5 linked regions of the Homo sapiens genome follow. The protein of the gene in region 2 purifies or fractionates together with the protein of the main gene of each other region. This does not show direct contact. Each region holds a gene or a part of one and is shown on either strand. Other genes may lie near its edges. The genes, in order: SS18L1, STK11IP, ARID2, BICRA and DPF3.

Region 1 (3,517 bases), on a different chromosome or scaffold from region 2:
GGAATTCGGCCAATGGTGGGAGACCCACGGAGAGCAGCCCCGAGACTGAAACCCGGAAGAATACCTGAGCAAAGGAGGAGATACACTAGTGACAAGTGATTGAAAAGAAAAACAATCAACAACTCCAGGGAAAACAAAAGCCAGGCAGGAAAAGCAGTCACACGGTCCTGCGTGGTTCAGCAGTGAGCAAGGTGTTTATCATCACCACGTCAACAGCAGAGGCAGATCCAACCCCCGAGAAAGCCACTCTGACGGGTATGAGTGGGGAGCGCAGGTGTGCAGCGGGGAGGGCAGACCTTATCGGGTGACCTGTTCTCCCTGGTCACCAGGTAAGGTCAGCAGCCCTAAACCCATTCCAAAGTGGCCACTTGGTTTGGCCTTGAGAAGGGCAAGACAGCGCCTCTGGGAGGTGGGAGGCATTACTCCTGAGGTTACTCATGCCCTGATAGGGTCTGTCTGTGTCCCCACCCAAATCTCATCTTCAATTGTAGTTCCCATAAGCCCCACGTGTCGTGGGAGGAACCCAGTGGGAAGAAATTAGATGGATGGGAGCTGTCTCCCCCATGCAGTTCTTGTGATGGTGAGTGAGTCTGCATGAGATCTGTTGGTTTTACAAGCACCTGGCATCTCCCCTGCTTGCGCTTCTCCTTCCTGCCGCCTTGTGAAGAAGGTGCCTTGCTTCCCCTTCCGCCATGATTCTAAGTTTCCTGAGGCCTCCCCAGCCCTGTGGAACTGTGAGTTAATTAAGCCTCTTTCCTTTATAAATTACCCCATCTCAGATATTTCTTCATAGCAGTGTAAGAACAACTAACACACACGCCCATGGTGCTTCTTGACTCCTGATGTGCACGCGCGGCTTTGGTGAGCATAAAATCCAAAGCAAAAGACCCTGACAGGACGGAAATGCACCGACAGGCAGCTGTGGCCCCCACTCTGGAGGTTGTCGATTCGTAGTTTCTTATGTGTCTGTGTTTATGAAAATCTCTAAGACAAGCATTTACTCACGGTATCATCTGCAAAGCGACCTTAAAGAGGCCTGAAGTGAGTCTGGGGTTGCCAGGGCTGGTGATGGGCCCACCTGAGTCTCCTCCACCTGGTGTGTACCTCTAACACTAAGCTGAACAAAGAAGCCATTCACGCGGCCTGGAGCGTTCTAGATCTTCTGTATTTACTGCTGTCTTCTGCAGACACTGTTTCCCAGCTTCCTGATGTGCACTTGTGAATTTTTCTGCAACGTGAGATACAGTTCTCCCCACCCTTTCCTAAGAGGCCGAGTTTCTACAGGTTCAGGGGTAAACCCGCGCCAGAGACGCCACCGGGAAAGCACTGAAGCTGGTGGCCTGAGGCCTCCCGAGGTGAGGGCGCTGGGGACAGAGATGAGGTGGCAACTCCATCTGGAGGAGCCAGAGGCTGGCATCGGGGGCCGCAGCAAGGAGGGGTGGTGAGATCCCATCTCTGAGCATGCTTCATCAATGTGCCCATCCTAGGCCTGGGTGAGTGGAGGCGACAGTGAGGAGGTGCGACCCGCTCTGCTCATGGTGGAGTGGGCGTGGGTGGCCAGTCGGGTGAAGACCGACGTGGGCATGCATCTGCTCAATGCCATGAGGCAGCGGAGCCCCAGGAGACTCCTGGGGTTGACGTCCAGCTGGGCTGGAGGCTGGGCAGGAGCACATGGGTAAGGTGGGGGAAGGGCGGCCCGATGGAGGAAACAGGCATGTGTGAAGGCCACGGGGCATCTCCAGGAATGGAGGCCAGCTCTGGGGAGCGGGAAAAGAGGGGAACGGGGGAGGCCAGCCCTGGGGACCGGGAAAAGAGGGGAACGGGGGAGGCCAGCTCTGGGGAGAGGGAAAAGAGGAGAACGGGGGAGGCCAGCTCTGGGGATCGGGAAAAGAGGGGAACGGGGAAGGCCAGCTCTGGGGAGCGGGAAAAGAGGGGAACGGGGGAGGCCAGCTATGGGGAGCGGGAAAAGAGGGGAACGGGGGCTGCTGGGGGACAGGAGTCCTGTGCCCATTGTGGGGGTGACTTTCTCAACCAAAGCCTGTGCTCACTGCAGAGACTGGCTGGACCAAGATCCCAACGCGGCTGGGTGCATCCATTACCCAATGCGCAACAAACCTCCCGGAGCCGCGTGGTTGAAACATGATTTCTTAGTTCTCATGATTCTGGGCTGGTTCGGAGGATCTTCTGCTGGGCTTGGCTGGGCTCGTGGCTGGGGCAGCTGGGACACCTGGGCCTCCCACTCCCTCTCTGCGTGGTCACCCCTGTGGTCTCAGGCTCTGAGGGGTGGCCCCAACGTGTCTCTGTTGGTCAGGCTGGCTGATGCCCAGGGCCAAGCCCAGCACCCACAGGGAGACAAACCCAAGGGGCACGGAAGCCACGGCCATGGCAATGGACCATGTGGGTGAGCAGAGAAACTGGATTTGGCAAGCGGGGACTGACGGGGGACACGGGGCTTGGCTTGGAGGGCCCAGGGCACAGCCAGGCACCAAGGATGGGGTCTGGGGCTGCTGAAGCCCCACCGTGGGGTCCTAACTGGGTAGGCGAGGGAGTGAGGATGAGAACCAGGGACGGAGAACTGGGGTCCCAGAGCCCACAGAGAGTAGGGGAAGGGCTGGGGCTACCAGGCAAAAACCTGGGTGAGGGGCTCTCAGCAGAACAGTCTCTCCCCAATGACAACCTGTGTGGGGCCCTGGAAGCCAGACAGAGGAGGCCTGGGGCTCTGAGGCTCACTGCCGGGGCTGGCTCAGCCCACACTGGGCAGGAAGACCTCCAGTGTCCTCATGGTTGTCCTTTCTAATTACAAAGACTTTTGGAACCTTTTTAATTTTGCAGGAGGAACCCCTGGCTCCTCTTCCCCAGAGGCCAGCTCTGCCGATTCTGGAAGCGTCTGGCATGGAGCCTGTGCACTCCCCTCCCGACTCTGCACACACCTGATAACGTTTCGCTCCCGCTGCTCCACACAGCTCCCTTTCCTCTCAAACATCTTGGAGACTGTCCTCTGTCAGCACATAGAGACCTCACCTGTCCCTTGAGCCCAGGAGGACAAGGCTGCACGAGCTGTGATCACGTTACTGCACCTCAGCCTGGGCGAAAGAGCAAGACTCTGTCTCCAAAAAAAAAAAAAAAAAAAAAAAAAAAAAAAAAAAAATCCACCTCAATGTTTCTTATGCTCCGGAGAATTCCACAACATGGACACAACGTAGTACTCTGTCTGCTTGGACAGACATTGAAATTGTTCCCCGTCTTCTGCCACTACATGCAGGGCTGCCATGCACTCCCCACGCATGGCGTGGACACAGACGCAGAATCAATTCCTAGGAGTCATCAAGGTGTGAGGGGGACCAGCCTGGCTAACCGGAGAGCTGGTCGAGCATCAGCAGGTGGCTAAGCCAGCGATGGCACCTGCGCTAGCGCCTGCCACTCCTGTTCTCGGGGCAGACATCGCTGACCCATCAGCAGTCCTTCCCTCTGAGCCCAGCCTGAGCTGCTCCGTCCCTGCCCCCGAGGTCAGCAAGCC
Region 2 (3,517 bases):
GAAACAAGGCTCCACCCTCTCCTTCTGTGACTGATGAGGCAGGGCCGACTCAGCCACGCTGCTCCACTTCATAGAAAGCCTGGGCCCGAGAGCAAAGGCTCTGGGTAACTGAGGATCCTGGGTGCCTCCTAACCCCACCCAGAGGGTCAGGGCACACTGAGGCTGTTACTCAGCTATGCCCTCAAGTGAGAGGTTCTCCAGGTTCCAGGAACTGACAGTTGCTGCAAGGGCACTGTACAGGTGCTGCGCGTGGGCCAGTGCCTGTGACAAGGTAGGGTACAGAGACCAGGGAAGCATCAGCTGCACAGAGGCTTCACCTTCAACCAGGAACGCCCGAAGGTAGAAGAACTGGCGAGCCTCCAAGGATGAGTCTTTTTCCAGCAATGGCCTAGAGGGAATATGGCAGGCACAGGAAGATCAGCTAGCGGGTGGGAAGGACTTGAAGAGAGGGGAGTGGGAAGAAAGCCCTGCAGGGGGTTGGGAGGAGACACTAGGGGCCCATAAGGGGCATGGCATGAGGACAGGTGGCTGCCCAGGACCTACTCAGCACAGGGCCATGTCTGGGGCTCTGTGGAAAGAGGATTGGGCAGCAACCCCAGCCTCTGCCTCCTATCGACTCACCAGAGCCGGTGCTGGGGGGTGACCTCCTCCTCTGTGGCACTGACACAGTTCCTCCAGGCAGGGGGCAGAGACTGCAAGACATCTAGACAGAGGCAGGCCAGGGAACTTTAGAAGGCTCTGCTCTCCTCCAGCCTAAACTCACCACCTCTCAATCCCTTCCTATTCTCCACATTTCTGGATTTCAGAAACTTCTACAAGGGACAAGTCCTGTTACCTCTCTGTCTCCGCTACTGGGTACCAGGTGGGGAGCCTGGCCCCAAGGCCCTGCCCACCCTCCTGCCCACCCTCCTGCCTTCCCCTCCCCTCTCTCACCAAGGAGCTCCTCTAGGAAGGCCCGGCAATGCCTGGCATCTCGGGGCAGCAGCACACAGCGGCCCGCCCCAGCTGCCCACTCTAGCCGCAGGCTCTGGCCTGCCAGGCCCAGCTCTATGCCACTCAGATCCTGCAGGGGAACAGCCAGGGTCAGCTGCAGCCAGCTAGCTGGAGGCTCACTGTGGAGAGAGGGGACAGAGCAATGGAGAAGCATGAGAGTGGAGTGAGAGTCCCAGAGAGGCCCTGCCCCAGCTGCACCTGCCTCACTCACTGCATCACCCCCGTGCGCTCACCACACCCCATCTTCCCCCTCATTCCATCTCCTCCCTCACTCACCCCATCTCCCCCTCACTCACCCCATCTCCCCCCTCACTCACCCCATCTCCGCCCCCCACTCACCCCATCTCCGCCCCCCACTCACCCCATCTCCCCCTTCACTCACCCCACGTCCCCCCCACTCACCCCACCTCCCCCCCACTCACCCCACCTCCCCCCTCACTCACCCCACCTCCCCCTCACTCACCCAATCTCCCCCTTCTCTCACCCCATCTCCCCCCTCACTCACCCCATCTCCCCCCTTAACACCCCATCTCCCCCCTCACTCACCCCATCTCCCCCCTCACCCCATCTTCCCCCTCACTCCCCCATCTCCCCCCAACTCACCCCATCTCCCCCCTTACTCACTGCATCTCCCCTCTCACTCACCGCATCTCCCCAGTCACCTTCAACAGGTACAGCCTGCGGTCAGACACAACCACAAGGCACATGAACTCCCCAGTGTGGCCTGCCAATGCCACTGGCACCTGGGGGAAGAGGAAGTTGGTGAGAAACCTGATGAGAGGCCTGGGGAGGTGGGGCCAGACTGAAAGCCGAGTTCCTGGTGACAGCACCCTCGGCCTGACCCTCCCACTGCCCACCCACCAGTCTATGGAGCTTCCCTCACACTCGACAGCCTCTTCATCCACCACCGCTCTCTGCCTTGCAGCCCCTGCCCGCTCAGAGCCTCAGCAGCTGGCTTCCCTGCCTGTCGCCTCACCCCCTCCACGCTCCGCCAGACTAACTATTCTAAGGCACAAAACTGACCATCACTGCCCCATTTCAAATCCTTCAGTGGCTCCCAGTGGCCCTCAGAAACAAGTCCAAACTCCTTGGCAGACACAGGAGGCAGCTCCTGACCTGGCCCCTGCCGGCCCCCCAGAGTCCTCTCAGGACCCCTGCCCCTCGCCCTGCATGTCCAGGTGCCCTCATCCTGGGCAGTTCTCCCCACCAGCGACACTCTCGGGCCTCCATGCATTTGCGGCTTCCTTTACCTAAGACATTCTTTTCCTCCCTACTCCTTAACTTACCCTTCAAGACTGAGCTTAGACATCACCTCCCAGGAAGGTTCCTTGACCCACTCAAGCTGGACTAGACACCCCTTCAAGGGCCTTAGCCCGATTACAGCATTTGCATATTGCATAATCATTGTCAGCTTCTCACACCAGACTGTAAGATCAAGGGCAAGATTGATCTGTAGATCCTCAATGTCTAGCACAACAGGTGCTCAACAAAGGCCTAACGACATCATGTGTTTATAATAATGCTAGGAGGCCCCATTGATGAGTGCCAGGTGCTGGGCTGGGCAGCTTCAACATGAGCCCTGACGCACGCCACTGTGTAAGGGAGGCATCGTTATCTCCATTGCAGACAGGCAACAACTGGGACTCAAATACCAGGGAATGTGTCCACGGCCACACAGCAAGAAGCTGCTGGGGTTGAAACCAGAAGCCAGATCAGGTCTCTAGAGTGCTTGATCTGACTCAGTTGGCTGTGATGGAAACGAGTGGGCACCCTGGACAGCTGGGGGCATGGGCAGTGTCAGGGAGCACAGACCTTGAGGCAGCACTGGAACTCCTCCTGGGCATCGCTGAACACCTCAACATCCAGGAAGAGCCGGAGTCGGTGGTCCACAGAGCGGAGGCCACAGCGCTCAGGGGCTGAGGGCAATGAGGGGGCATCAGCCTGCCCATGGCAGCCCCTGGGCTCCATCTCCACCTCCCCATCAGTGCCCCTTCCCTTCCCCAAACTCATCTATGTCTTGTTTTGCCTATACTCACGGGGACTGAGGCTCCAACTACCATGGTCACGGGTGCTCGGTGCCTGAGGTGGGCTGTTCTTGGCCCTGTCAAGGTGGTCACCATGGCCAGGAGGGTGGCAGACAGGGCTGGCAGACGGAGAAGGAGCCAGAGACTGCTCTCCCTGTTTCCGCTCCCTGTTGGGGGTTCCCCGAGACACAGCGAGGAGAACCACGTGGTCACTACCACAGTTAGGACACACAGCAGGAGATTCTGGAGGGAGGATGGACACGGTCCCCATGAGCCCCCCCCACAGTGCCACAACTCCCACCATGCTCACGATGCTCCTTCCCCATGCTCAGGTCTCCCCTGAGCCCAAGCCTCCAGCTTCATACACAACCACCGCGCCCCAGGCCACCAGCTCCCTCTCCCGGCACAGCTGCCAACTGATCACTCCCCACCCCAGGGAGGGATGAGCTAACCCTGGCCCACAAACTCCTCAAAGTGCACTCTACCTTCTAACTCTAGGC
Region 3 (3,517 bases), on a different chromosome or scaffold from region 2:
GGGTAATCAGGCCTCCAATCCCAATTTATAGGTAAAGGTCATTTTAAGAAAAAGACAAAATGAGGTTTGAATTAGTTTGTAATGGATTACAAATTAAAACTGTTTTGAAATGGGGAAATGGGAGTGTGCAGCATGGAAAGTGTCATTGTTTTAGGAAGTAGCTGAAAAGCTTGGATAAGTTTTTTCTGAAGGAATTTGATCCAAGAGCCAAGGAAAGTTTAACCTTAGTTCAGTTTCCCCCCATTTTCTTCAGCTACAATGCAAATAGCACGTAATTGGGAACTTGTTTTATGTTATGATTATTACAAGACAGGATGCCGAATAGATATTCACTAAATAAAACTATTTCTTATAGAACATTTGTTGTCAGCAGACCAACCCTGCTCTCATTGGGATGTGAACATAGTTTTTATATTTGTTGTCAGTGTCATTTTTAATACTAAAATAAGCATGTTAATCTATTGATTTAATCTAAAATTTAGCATATATTTTTGCTACTAACGTATGAGTCAGTGAAATTTGATTAGTAGGTATAATTATTAGTTTTAACACATTGCCTCCACATGGCTTTAGTATATTTAAATATGGAGTTTCCTAGAGTATATTGTATAATGCTTAATTTTTCTCCTCTTTTAGGCTAAATGCTCATTTTGAAGTAAATCCAGATTGTTCTGTTTCTCGAGCAGAAATGTATTCTGAATACCTCTCGACTTGCAGTAAATTAGCTCGTGGTGGAATCCTAACATCAACTGGATTTTATAAATGTCTTAGGTAGGATCCATAGTTCTTTAAATAAAGTCCATTTACGTCACTTACAACATCTCTTGCTCTTTAAAGAAAATACCAAATATCTTATCTAGTTTTAAATATTTCTACTACTAGAAGTTTCGTATGGATAGGTTATAGTGTGGTGGAGGTTTAAATAAAAAGCAGTTTCAGAAATCACATCTAGTGTTTGTGTTGGAACATTATGAGATTTATCAAAGAAATGAAGTTTACTTTCTTTTTCCTACCTACTTTTACATGTTAAAGACATGACTGTATCTTTTTAATCTTGAATAATAGAATATAATATTATTATCTTCAAATACAAAGACTTTTTGATATTTTGCAAAGTACATAAAAATAGGTATCTTTTATTAGTTATATGTGGGTGGAATTGTTTAAAACCCAGCGACATTGTTAATAAATAATGATGTTTTAAATGGGATGATTAATCTTTTATATTTCTTTGCTTTCCATCCTTGCAGAATATAACTGTGAGTCATACTGGTTCATACATAAGCAACAGTAAACATACTGCTGTTGTTCATGTAAACATAATGTTAGAAGTCAATGTGATAGTTATCAAAACTTACTGATTATGTATGTACTTTACAGAACGGTCTTTCCAAATCATACAGTGAAGAGAGTGGAGGATTCCAGTAGCAATGGGCAGGCACATATTCATGTGGTAGGAGTAAAACGGAGGGCTATACCACTTCCCATTCAGATGTACTATCAGCAGCAACCAGTTTCTACTTCTGTTGTTCGTGTTGATTCTGTTCCTGATGTATCTCCTGCTCCTTCACCTGCAGGTGTTAATTTTTATTGTATTTTTAAAGTATTACTGATTTAATAATAAAACTGAATGAAAAATATATATTCTATGCATTTTAAATGTATAACTTTTGTGTCTCCAGTAGCATTTTCTTACTTGGTCTATTACCATATTCATATGATTCAAAATTGTTAGATGTTAATTTCTTAAAACTATTTTCTCTTAAGTAAAATAATTCCTACTTGGGATTTTCAGTCATTTCATTTGGAATTTTGACGTTTTCTTCATATTTTCAGGAATCCCTCATGGATCACAAACCATAGGAAACCATTTTCAGAGGACTCCTGTTGCCAACCAATCTTCAAATCTGACTGCAACACAAATGTCTTTTCCTGTACAAGGTGTTCATACTGTGGCACAAACTGTTTCAAGAATTCCACAAAATCCTTCACCTCATACCCACCAGCAACAAAATGCTCCAGTGACTGTCATTCAAAGTAAAGCTCCAATTCCTTGTGAAGTTGTTAAGGCTACAGTTATCCAGAATTCCATACCCCAGACAGGAGTTCCTGTTAGTATTGCTGTTGGAGGAGGACCTCCACAGAGTTCTGTTGTTCAGAATCATAGTACAGGGCCACAACCTGTTACAGTTGTGAATTCTCAGACATTGCTTCACCATCCATCTGTAATTCCACAGCAGTCTCCATTACACACAGTGGTACCAGGACAGATCCCTTCAGGCACTCCTGTTACAGTAATTCAACAAGCTGTCCCACAGAGTCATATGTTTGGCAGAGTACAGAACATACCAGCATGTACTTCTACAGTTTCACAGGGTCAACAGTTAATCACCACATCACCCCAACCTGTGCAAACTTCATCTCAACAGACATCAGCTGGTAGCCAGTCACAAGATACTGTTATCATAGCACCCCCACAGTATGTAACAACTTCTGCATCCAATATTGTCTCAGCAACTTCAGTACAGAATTTTCAGGTAGCTACAGGACAAATGGTTACTATTGCTGGTGTCCCAAGTCCACAAGCCTCAAGGGTAGGGTTTCAGAACATTGCACCAAAACCTCTCCCTTCTCAGCAAGTTTCATCTACAGTGGTACAGCAGCCTATTCAACAACCACAGCAGCCAACCCAACAAAGCGTAGTGATTGTAAGCCAGCCAGCTCAACAAGGTCAAACTTATGCACCAGCCATTCACCAAATTGTTCTTGCTAATCCAGCAGCTCTTCCAGCTGGTCAGACAGTTCAGCTAACTGGACAACCTAACATAACTCCATCTTCTTCACCATCACCTGTCCCAGCTACTAATAACCAAGTCCCTACTGCCATGTCGTCGTCCTCTACCCCTCAATCACAGGGACCACCTCCTACTGTCAGTCAAATGTTATCTGTGAAAAGGCAGCAACAGCAGCAACATTCACCAGCACCCCCACCACAGCAGGTACAAGTACAAGTTCAGCAGCCCCAACAAGTACAGATGCAAGTTCAACCTCAACAGTCGAATGCAGGAGTTGGTCAGCCTGCCTCTGGTGAGTCGAGTCTGATTAAACAGCTTCTGCTTCCGAAACGTGGTCCTTCAACACCAGGTGGTAAGCTTATTCTCCCAGCTCCACAGATTCCTCCCCCTAATAATGCAAGAGCTCCTAGCCCTCAGGTGGTCTATCAGGTGGCCAGTAACCAAGCCGCAGGTTTTGGAGTGCAGGGGCAAACTCCAGCTCAGCAGCTATTGGTTGGGCAGCAAAATGTTCAGTTGGTCCCAAGTGCAATGCCACCCTCAGGGGGAGTACAAACTGTGCCCATTTCGAACTTACAAATATTGCCAGGTCCACTGATCTCAAATAGCCCAGCAACCATTTTCCAAGGGACTTCTGGCAACCAGGTAACCATAACAGTTGTGCCAAATACGAGTTTTGCACCTGCAACTGTGAGTCAGGGAAATGCAACTCAGCTCATTGCTCC
Region 4 (3,517 bases), on a different chromosome or scaffold from region 2:
CACCAGCCGTACACAGCGCCAAGGACTGCGCCTCTCATCTCTTCTTAGAGGTGGCAAACCTTTTGAAGACTGATTGATTGATTGGTTTGGTTTGGTTCTTTAACTGTCAGAAGTTACTCAGGGCCCAGCTTGGAAGGGATGCTGGAAGGGCCCTGGGACTTAGAGGCCAAAGCTGGTGGTGAATCTGATGTCATGCCGAGATGCCCGGTTCTGGAGTGTGGTGGTGCTGGCTGTCCTCGGGCAGATATCCTGAGCCCTCTGAGCCTGAACTCAGTCAGCTTTGAGAAATGGCTCAGAAGTCACTGAGCAGTGTAAAGGCCTCAGTTCCGCCTTCACCAGCCTGGAGAGTCTGGACCAGTTTTGGAGCCTTGGCCTCAGTTTCTTATCTGTGAAATGGGTCCAGTGTTACCACTGCCCTCAGGGCTAGGGAGAGATCACACAAATGGATGCGGGAGGCCGGCCATTCGTGTTAGATCAGCATGAGCTGTTACTAGGATGCAGATTCTGTGACAGCAAGTATCACGGTGCCAGCCCAGTGTTGGGTGCACAGCTGGTGCCCACTGGTTACACAGTGGCTGCTCTGGTTATGATTCTTTGGGAGGAGGGTCCAGAACGGCAAGGTGCTCCGTCTGAGACATGCTTTAGGCGAGGTGGCTGTGTGCGTGTGACAGAACTAGCACCAGATCGCGTGTGCTTGCAGACACAGGCTTCATCAGAGTCTGGTACGTCGTGCACACGCATGCACGCTTGTACCTGCAAGCTCACGTGGCGCCCAGGTAGGCCTGCAGCCATGGACACACAGGCACACAGAGGCAGGTGCCCAGGACACTTAGAAGGGGGTCCAGGCCTTCCCATGCCCGCATCCAGAGGTCCACACGTGGCTGTGAACCCAGGCCTGTCCCTGTGTGGCCATCCGTATTCTCGGCAGCCCCCGTGCCGTGGCCATCAACCCCGAGCCATGGTACACAGCATCATGCTGGTGTCTCTTTGCCTTGACTTGGCTGGATGGGCTGGTGGGGGCTGGCGGCTGGGACGCTGCCCTGCCTGCCCTCCTTCCCCGCTGCTGTGCTCGCCGCCCGGCCCTCCTGCCTCCTGCTGGGCAGCGGGTGTGGTGCCCCTGCTGCCACCGCCACCACTGCCTCTGCTTCCTCTGCTGCTGCCACCCCAACCCTGCAGGGCTCGCCTTTGTCTGGGGAACTGCGAGGGGTGGGGGGAATGGGGCAGAAGTGGGGTTGAGATCGGAGGCCAGAGAAATGTGGAGGAGCTGCGGTGGGGGACAGAGGTCGAGGGCAGGTGGAGGGGGTGCTGTGGGGAATGAGAGGCGAGGGAGGGAAGGGCAGCCGTGGTGGGCTCCTCTCTCAGGATGGGTGTGGGCTAGGAAGGGGGCTTCTGGCGGGGATGGCTGGGGACCCCAGTGTCTTGGGGCAACAGGAGCTATGGTTGGTTCTGACCCCCGCCCCTCCCCTCTCCCTCCCTCCCCTGCCCAGATCCCGGCAGCGGCTCCGCTGAAGGGCCCAGGCCCCTCTTCGTCCCCGTCACTACCTCACCAGGCCCCTCTGGGGGACAGCCCCCACCTGCCCTCCCCACACCCCACCCGGCCCCCTTCCCGCCCACCCTCCCGGCCACAGAGTGTGTCCCGCCCTCCCTCAGAGCCACCCTTGCACCCTTGCCCCCCACCCCAGGCCCCCCCAACTCTGCCTGGCATCTTTGTCATCCAAAACCAGCTAGGCGTTCCCCCGCCTGCCAGCAACCCGGCCCCTACTGCCCCAGGCCCGCCGCAGCCGCCTCTCCGCCCCCAGTCCCAGCCGCCTGAGGGACCGCTGCCCCCAGCCCCCCACCTCCCTCCATCCTCCACCTCCTCTGCTGTGGCCTCCTCCTCTGAGACGTCCTCCAGGTTGCCAGCCCCTACGCCATCCGACTTCCAGCTCCAGTTCCCACCCAGCCAGGGGCCCCACAAGTCCCCCACTCCCCCTCCAACCCTCCACCTGGTCCCTGAGCCGGCAGCACCCCCCCCACCGCCTCCTCGGACCTTCCAGATGGTGACCACCCCCTTCCCAGCGCTGCCCCAGCCGAAGGCTCTTCTCGAGAGATTTCACCAGGTAACGGGAGGCAGGGACTGCCCGCCCCATCAGCCCCATCCCATCCCACCCTCTCAGTCTGATGGGAGCCCCTCCGCCTTACGGCTCTGTGATCCTCCCCAGCCCTGCTGCGTCTGGACACCCCTACACCTAGCCTATGTTCCCCACCCCTCATCCACCTGTCCCCTCCTCAGGTGCCGTCCGGAATCATCCTCCAGAACAAGGCTGGGGGGGCCCCTGCCGCCCCGCAGACCTCCACCAGCCTGGGGCCCCTCACCAGCCCCGCTGCGTCTGTGCTGGTCAGTGGGCAGGCCCCATCTGGGACCCCCACTGCCCCCAGCCACGCCCCCGCCCCGGCACCCATGGCCGCCACAGGTAGGAGAGAGGTCGCCTATGTGCCCAGGGAGACGGGGCCTGAAGATGGGTGGGCGGGGCTGAGCAGGGAGAATGGGCTGGGGCAGGGCTGTGGGACTCAGCACAGGGCATCAGCCAGAACTCAAGGGACACAGGAAGGCCAGAGGTGGCAGGGCTGGCCCCAGATTTGAAGGGCCGGAGGGCCAGGAGGAGAGCGGTGGGGTACAGGATGGGGCTCCCGTTTGAGGAGGGGGCCTTCATGCAGTGACCGCAGGCCCTGTCTCCCCCACCCCACCCACCCCCAGGCCTCCCTCCTCTGCTTCCAGCCGAGAACAAGGCTTTTGCCAGCAACCTCCCGACCCTGAATGTGGCCAAGGCCGCTTCCTCCGGGCCAGGGAAGCCCTCCGGGCTGCAGGTAAGGGGCCCTTAGAGCAGGGGTCAGGACAGGACCAGGAGTCTTCGGGAACTGGGAACTGGGGCTGGCAGGGGCAGGGAGACACTGGAAGACGCGGACAGGATGAAGCTGGGACCATCAGGCAGCTGAGACACCACGAACAGCCGTGCAGGGACAGGAAGGGCAGAATGACACCCAGACAGGCAGCCAGAGATGAGGGAGAAACACGGAGACGGTGGGACGGAGACGGCACCAAGACTACTGGCAACAGTGTAAGGGACTATGACTGGGGAAAGAGCAGGTGATATGGACACAGGACGGGAAGGACAGGGCTGAGATGACAAGATGTGAGCTCAGGACAGGAAAGGCGGGTTTAGATGAGACAGACCGGAGACGGAGCAGATCAGGGACCGAGAATGAAAGGGTGAGAGGGTGGGGACAGCTGAGGCCGAGGCCACTTGTAGATGTAAGACGTGGGGGAGACAGAAGACAAGGAGAGGAGCAGGTGGGAGGACCAGGACCCAAGAGGCCGGGAGAAGCTCAGAGATGGAGATGCCAGAATGAAGGCCAGACGCTGAGGACAAGAGGGGAAGCCAGGAAGGGAGGCGGGGGGGCGAAACGACAGGAGCCACACTGGGAGAGAGACTGTGCGAGGCAGGGGCACTGGGTGCTGGGCGGTGATGTGGGAAGC
Region 5 (3,517 bases), on a different chromosome or scaffold from region 2:
CAGTTTAGAAAGATCTTACTAGCTGCTATGTAAGAGTAGATACCCAGTGGGGGAGAGGTTCATTCAAGAGGCCCGGGGACCAGTTAGGAAGCTGCTATAGCTATCCAGGTGCGTGATGATGGTGGCCTGAATTACAATTGCGGCATGGAGAAAGAAATGGGTCTTGCTCCCATTTAAGCATCATTGATTAGATGGGGAGAGTGATAGGGAAGAAGCCAAGGATGCCGTCTGGGTTGTGGCTTGGTCAGCAAGCCAGATGATACAGCCACCCAATGGGACATGGGAGGAAGAGCAGACTCATGGGAGGGAGAGGGCAACCTCAGCTATAGACATGTTCTACAGATAGGGATGACCTGGAGGCTGTTGAAGAGAGCAGGAGAGAAGTCTGGGCCTGAGATATGGACTTGGGATTCATTGTAATTAGATGGCAAGTGAAGGTCCTAGGAGAGGAAGCCCAGAATGTGTGAGAGCAAATGTCTTTGACCTTGTCTTCATGGAGAAGTGTCCATGAACCCCTTGAAATGATACACACAATTTTGTACATAGGTAGAAATGTACATTTTTCTATGGAAAGAGTAAGTCCGTAGCTTTCATTGAATTCTCTGAAAGATCAAGGACCCAAAAGAGTTTACTGAGAAGAAGGCCAAGAGTTTACTGAGAAGAAGTACACTTGGGGTACTCCAACTTTACAGGACAGGCAGAGAAAAAAAGACTGAAAAGGAACAGTCAGAGAGGTGGGATGAAGACGAGCACACTGTAGTTTACGCCAAAACAGTTACATCATTATTGCAGAGCCAGCATAAGCTACAGGACAATTTGATTTAGGGATAATACAAGGAGAAACAAGTTAGGATGGAGACAGAAAACAGACAGGACTTGTCAGAAACAGTGTTATTAATGCCTTAAAAACAGTAATAACCCCTACTACAGCAGTGACATGGGAAATACAAATAGGTAGAATATCCTGGATTACAATTTCCCAAAGGAAAACTAGGCATCTGAGAGTTTAAGTGCATTTTGCATGGGTTGACCACTGTCTAGCACCATATTCTCTTCTCTTCCACCACCAAGAGCCCCCAGCTTATGCTAACTCTCATGACAAACACAATTTTAGTACCTCTCACTACCAACTATCCAGGAACCAGGAATCACCTATTACTACAGTTCCAGCAGAATGGGAATCCCATTCTCGGATATCCAGGGTAAATCCCTGACCATGTGAGAGGAATCCTAGTGCCCCAACAACCTCACCCCCTGACTCCTCCTCAAAGGCTCTGCCAAGTCAACAAAAAAATCCTCTACATTTACACTATCTGTAAAGCCAAAGACCAGCGTCAACCTAAATGTCCATCAATAAGGGAATGGTTGGATAAGTAAAAATTATGCAGCTGTAGGAAGGAATGAAGAATGTCTATATATTCCTCCAGATTAATCTCTAAGATATTCAGAGAAAACAAGCAAGATGGAGAAAACATATATACTTGTTACCATTTTTCATGGATTCATATATACACACACATGTTTACATTTAAACAAAATGGAAAGACAAATCATATTTTTTAGTGGTTGCCTATATGCAGAGTGAAGGAATAGTGTGGAAGAGGTAAGTAGAGAGCTACATTTCTTTGAATATAATGTTTCTTTATAAATTTGATTTTAGAACCAATAAATATTTTACACAGTCATAAAACAAAATTTAAATAGCAATATGTCCCTAAAAAAAACAAAAGAAAAATGAGGCAAATGAATTTGGTTATGTATCCAATTGGTAGCATAACCACACAGAGAGAAACTATTCCATCTGACTATAAAACAATTAATTTGACAATACATCCTTAGTAGGACATACCTTAAGGTCATACATAAATGCAGATCTGCATATATATGTGTGTGTGTGTGTAATGTTCAGCAATTATATTATTGGTTTAAATATTGGAATCAATATTCTGAGACTGCTTTATGTGCATCAAATGAGTAATTATGTTGGTATTATTGAAGAGCAAGATTTTGTAACATGGTTGAAAGAAAATAGAAATGTAGGCCAATGAAGTTAAGTCAAAAGTCAGTAGTTGGTTCTAAGTATGAACTGGATGCATCAGTATAAATTCATGGTGTAGTGTATCTTTAAAACAAGCAAAAAATATTTTCTACCTCTGTCCACAGAAAGTGCTCCAAAACAATGACTAACAGCAAAATTAGCACCTCTAGCACCCATATTATGTTCTCTAAAGACCATTGCCCACTAAAAGGAATTAGGAGTCCTGGGAGAAATAAGTGATTCCAGGTCTGGAGCATAAAATGTATAAATATATTTACATATTACAAAGTAAGGAAGCTATCAAATACTATTAGGATTATGTCAAAAGGACTCAGGATCCAACCTGAATATGTTACCACTGGTCAAAGATGGGACAATTTTACCTATAATGGATTATAACAAATAAAATATGTTTAAAATCTTAAGTTCATAAACATATTTTTTAAAACCTTAGTCACCTTCAGAAGATGCTAGAGAAACATCACACTATATTTTTATTTATTTATTTGAAATAATTTTAAACTTAGAGAAAAGTGCAGAAATTATGCAGAGAATTGTACTCACTGTGCCCTAATATTAACATATTATATTACTATAGCAGAATTACGAAAATCAGAAAATTACCATTGGTGTAATACTGTTAACTAATCTACAGACTTTATTTTAATTTCTCCAGTTTTCCCACCTATGTCTCTTTTTTTTTTTTTTTTTTTTTCTGAGACAGAGTCTCACTCTGTTGCCCAAACTGGAGTGCAGTGGTGCCATCTCGGCTCACTGCAGCCTCCTTCTCCCGGGCTCAAGCAATTCTCCTGCCTCAGCGTCCTGAGTAACTGGGATTACAGGCATGTGCCACCATGCCTGGCTAATTTTTGTATTTTTAGTAGAGACAGGGCTTCACCAAGTTGGCCAGGCTGTTCTCCAGCGCCTGACCTCAGGTAATCCGCCCGCCTCAGCCTCCCAAAGTGCTGGGATTACAGGCGTGAGCCACCACGCCCGGCCCCCAACCTATGTCTCTTTACCAGGGATCCAATCCAAGATCCCTCATTGCATTTAATTGTTGTGTTTTCTCAGTATCCTTCAATCTGTGACAGTTCCTCAGTTTCTTTGTCTTTCATGAGCTTGACACTTTCAAAAAATCCAAGCCAGTGATTTTGTAAATGTCACTCAATTTCAGTTGGATCTTTTCTCATGATAAGATCCACATATGCATACATTTTTTAGCAAGAATACCACTAAAGTAATGTTGTGCCCTTCTTGGCGCATCATATCGGGGGAAATTGAGGCCAGTACGTCTTATTACTTGTAATGTTATCTGTGATTATATAGTTAAGGTAGTGTCTGCCATTTTTTTCACTGTAAAGTTACTGTTTTTCCCTTTGTAATATACTAATAAGTAATATTGTTGGGGAGATACTTGGAGATTATCTCCTCAACAAGAGAAATAGGATATTTGAGATTATGTAAATATCCTACTTCTCA

Evidence for each region.
Region 1: the proteins of STK11IP (region 2) and SS18L1 purify together in Homo sapiens (affinity purification with mass spectrometry, with the first as the bait; one large-scale study listed by BioGRID). This does not show direct contact.
Region 3: the proteins of STK11IP (region 2) and ARID2 purify together in Homo sapiens (affinity purification with mass spectrometry, with the first as the bait; one large-scale study listed by BioGRID). This does not show direct contact.
Region 4: the proteins of STK11IP (region 2) and BICRA purify together in Homo sapiens (affinity purification with mass spectrometry, with the first as the bait; one large-scale study listed by BioGRID). This does not show direct contact.
Region 5: the proteins of STK11IP (region 2) and DPF3 purify together in Homo sapiens (affinity purification with mass spectrometry, with the first as the bait; one large-scale study listed by BioGRID). This does not show direct contact.

Annotation. Positions count from the first base shown.
Region 1 is NC_000020.11:62,150,265-62,153,781, reverse strand, and holds part of SS18L1 (calcium-responsive transactivator), read right to left. Parts: intron 3,104-3,517; exon of another isoform or gene 1-3,103. UniProt on the Homo sapiens protein: Transcriptional activator which is required for calcium-dependent dendritic growth and branching in cortical neurons. Recruits CREB-binding protein (CREBBP) to nuclear bodies.
Region 2 is NC_000002.12:219,611,347-219,614,863, reverse strand, and holds part of STK11IP (serine/threonine-protein kinase 11-interacting protein), read right to left. Parts: exon of another isoform or gene 3,503-3,517; intron 3,261-3,502; coding exon 3,030-3,260; intron 2,910-3,029; coding exon 2,806-2,909; intron 1,737-2,805; coding exon 1,639-1,736; intron 1,113-1,638; coding exon 934-1,112; intron 704-933; coding exon 622-703; intron 389-621; coding exon 318-388; coding exon of another isoform or gene 175-317; exon of another isoform or gene 1-174. UniProt on the Homo sapiens protein: May regulate STK11/LKB1 function by controlling its subcellular localization.
Region 3 is NC_000012.12:45,848,200-45,851,716, forward strand, and holds part of ARID2 (AT-rich interactive domain-containing protein 2), read left to right. Parts: intron 1-636; coding exon 637-771; intron 772-1,358; exon of another isoform or gene 1,359-1,380; coding exon 1,381-1,577; intron 1,578-1,836; coding exon 1,837-3,517. UniProt on the Homo sapiens protein: Involved in transcriptional activation and repression of select genes by chromatin remodeling (alteration of DNA-nucleosome topology). Required for the stability of the SWI/SNF chromatin remodeling complex SWI/SNF-B (PBAF).
Region 4 is NC_000019.10:47,692,628-47,696,144, forward strand, and holds part of BICRA (BRD4-interacting chromatin-remodeling complex-associated protein), read left to right. Parts: intron 1-1,487; coding exon 1,488-2,099; intron 2,100-2,272; coding exon 2,273-2,453; intron 2,454-2,737; coding exon 2,738-2,847; intron 2,848-3,517. UniProt on the Homo sapiens protein: Component of SWI/SNF chromatin remodeling subcomplex GBAF that carries out key enzymatic activities, changing chromatin structure by altering DNA-histone contacts within a nucleosome in an ATP-dependent manner.
Region 5 is NC_000014.9:72,621,602-72,625,118, forward strand, and holds part of DPF3 (zinc finger protein DPF3), read right to left. Parts: intron 1-3,517. UniProt on the Homo sapiens protein: Belongs to the neuron-specific chromatin remodeling complex (nBAF complex).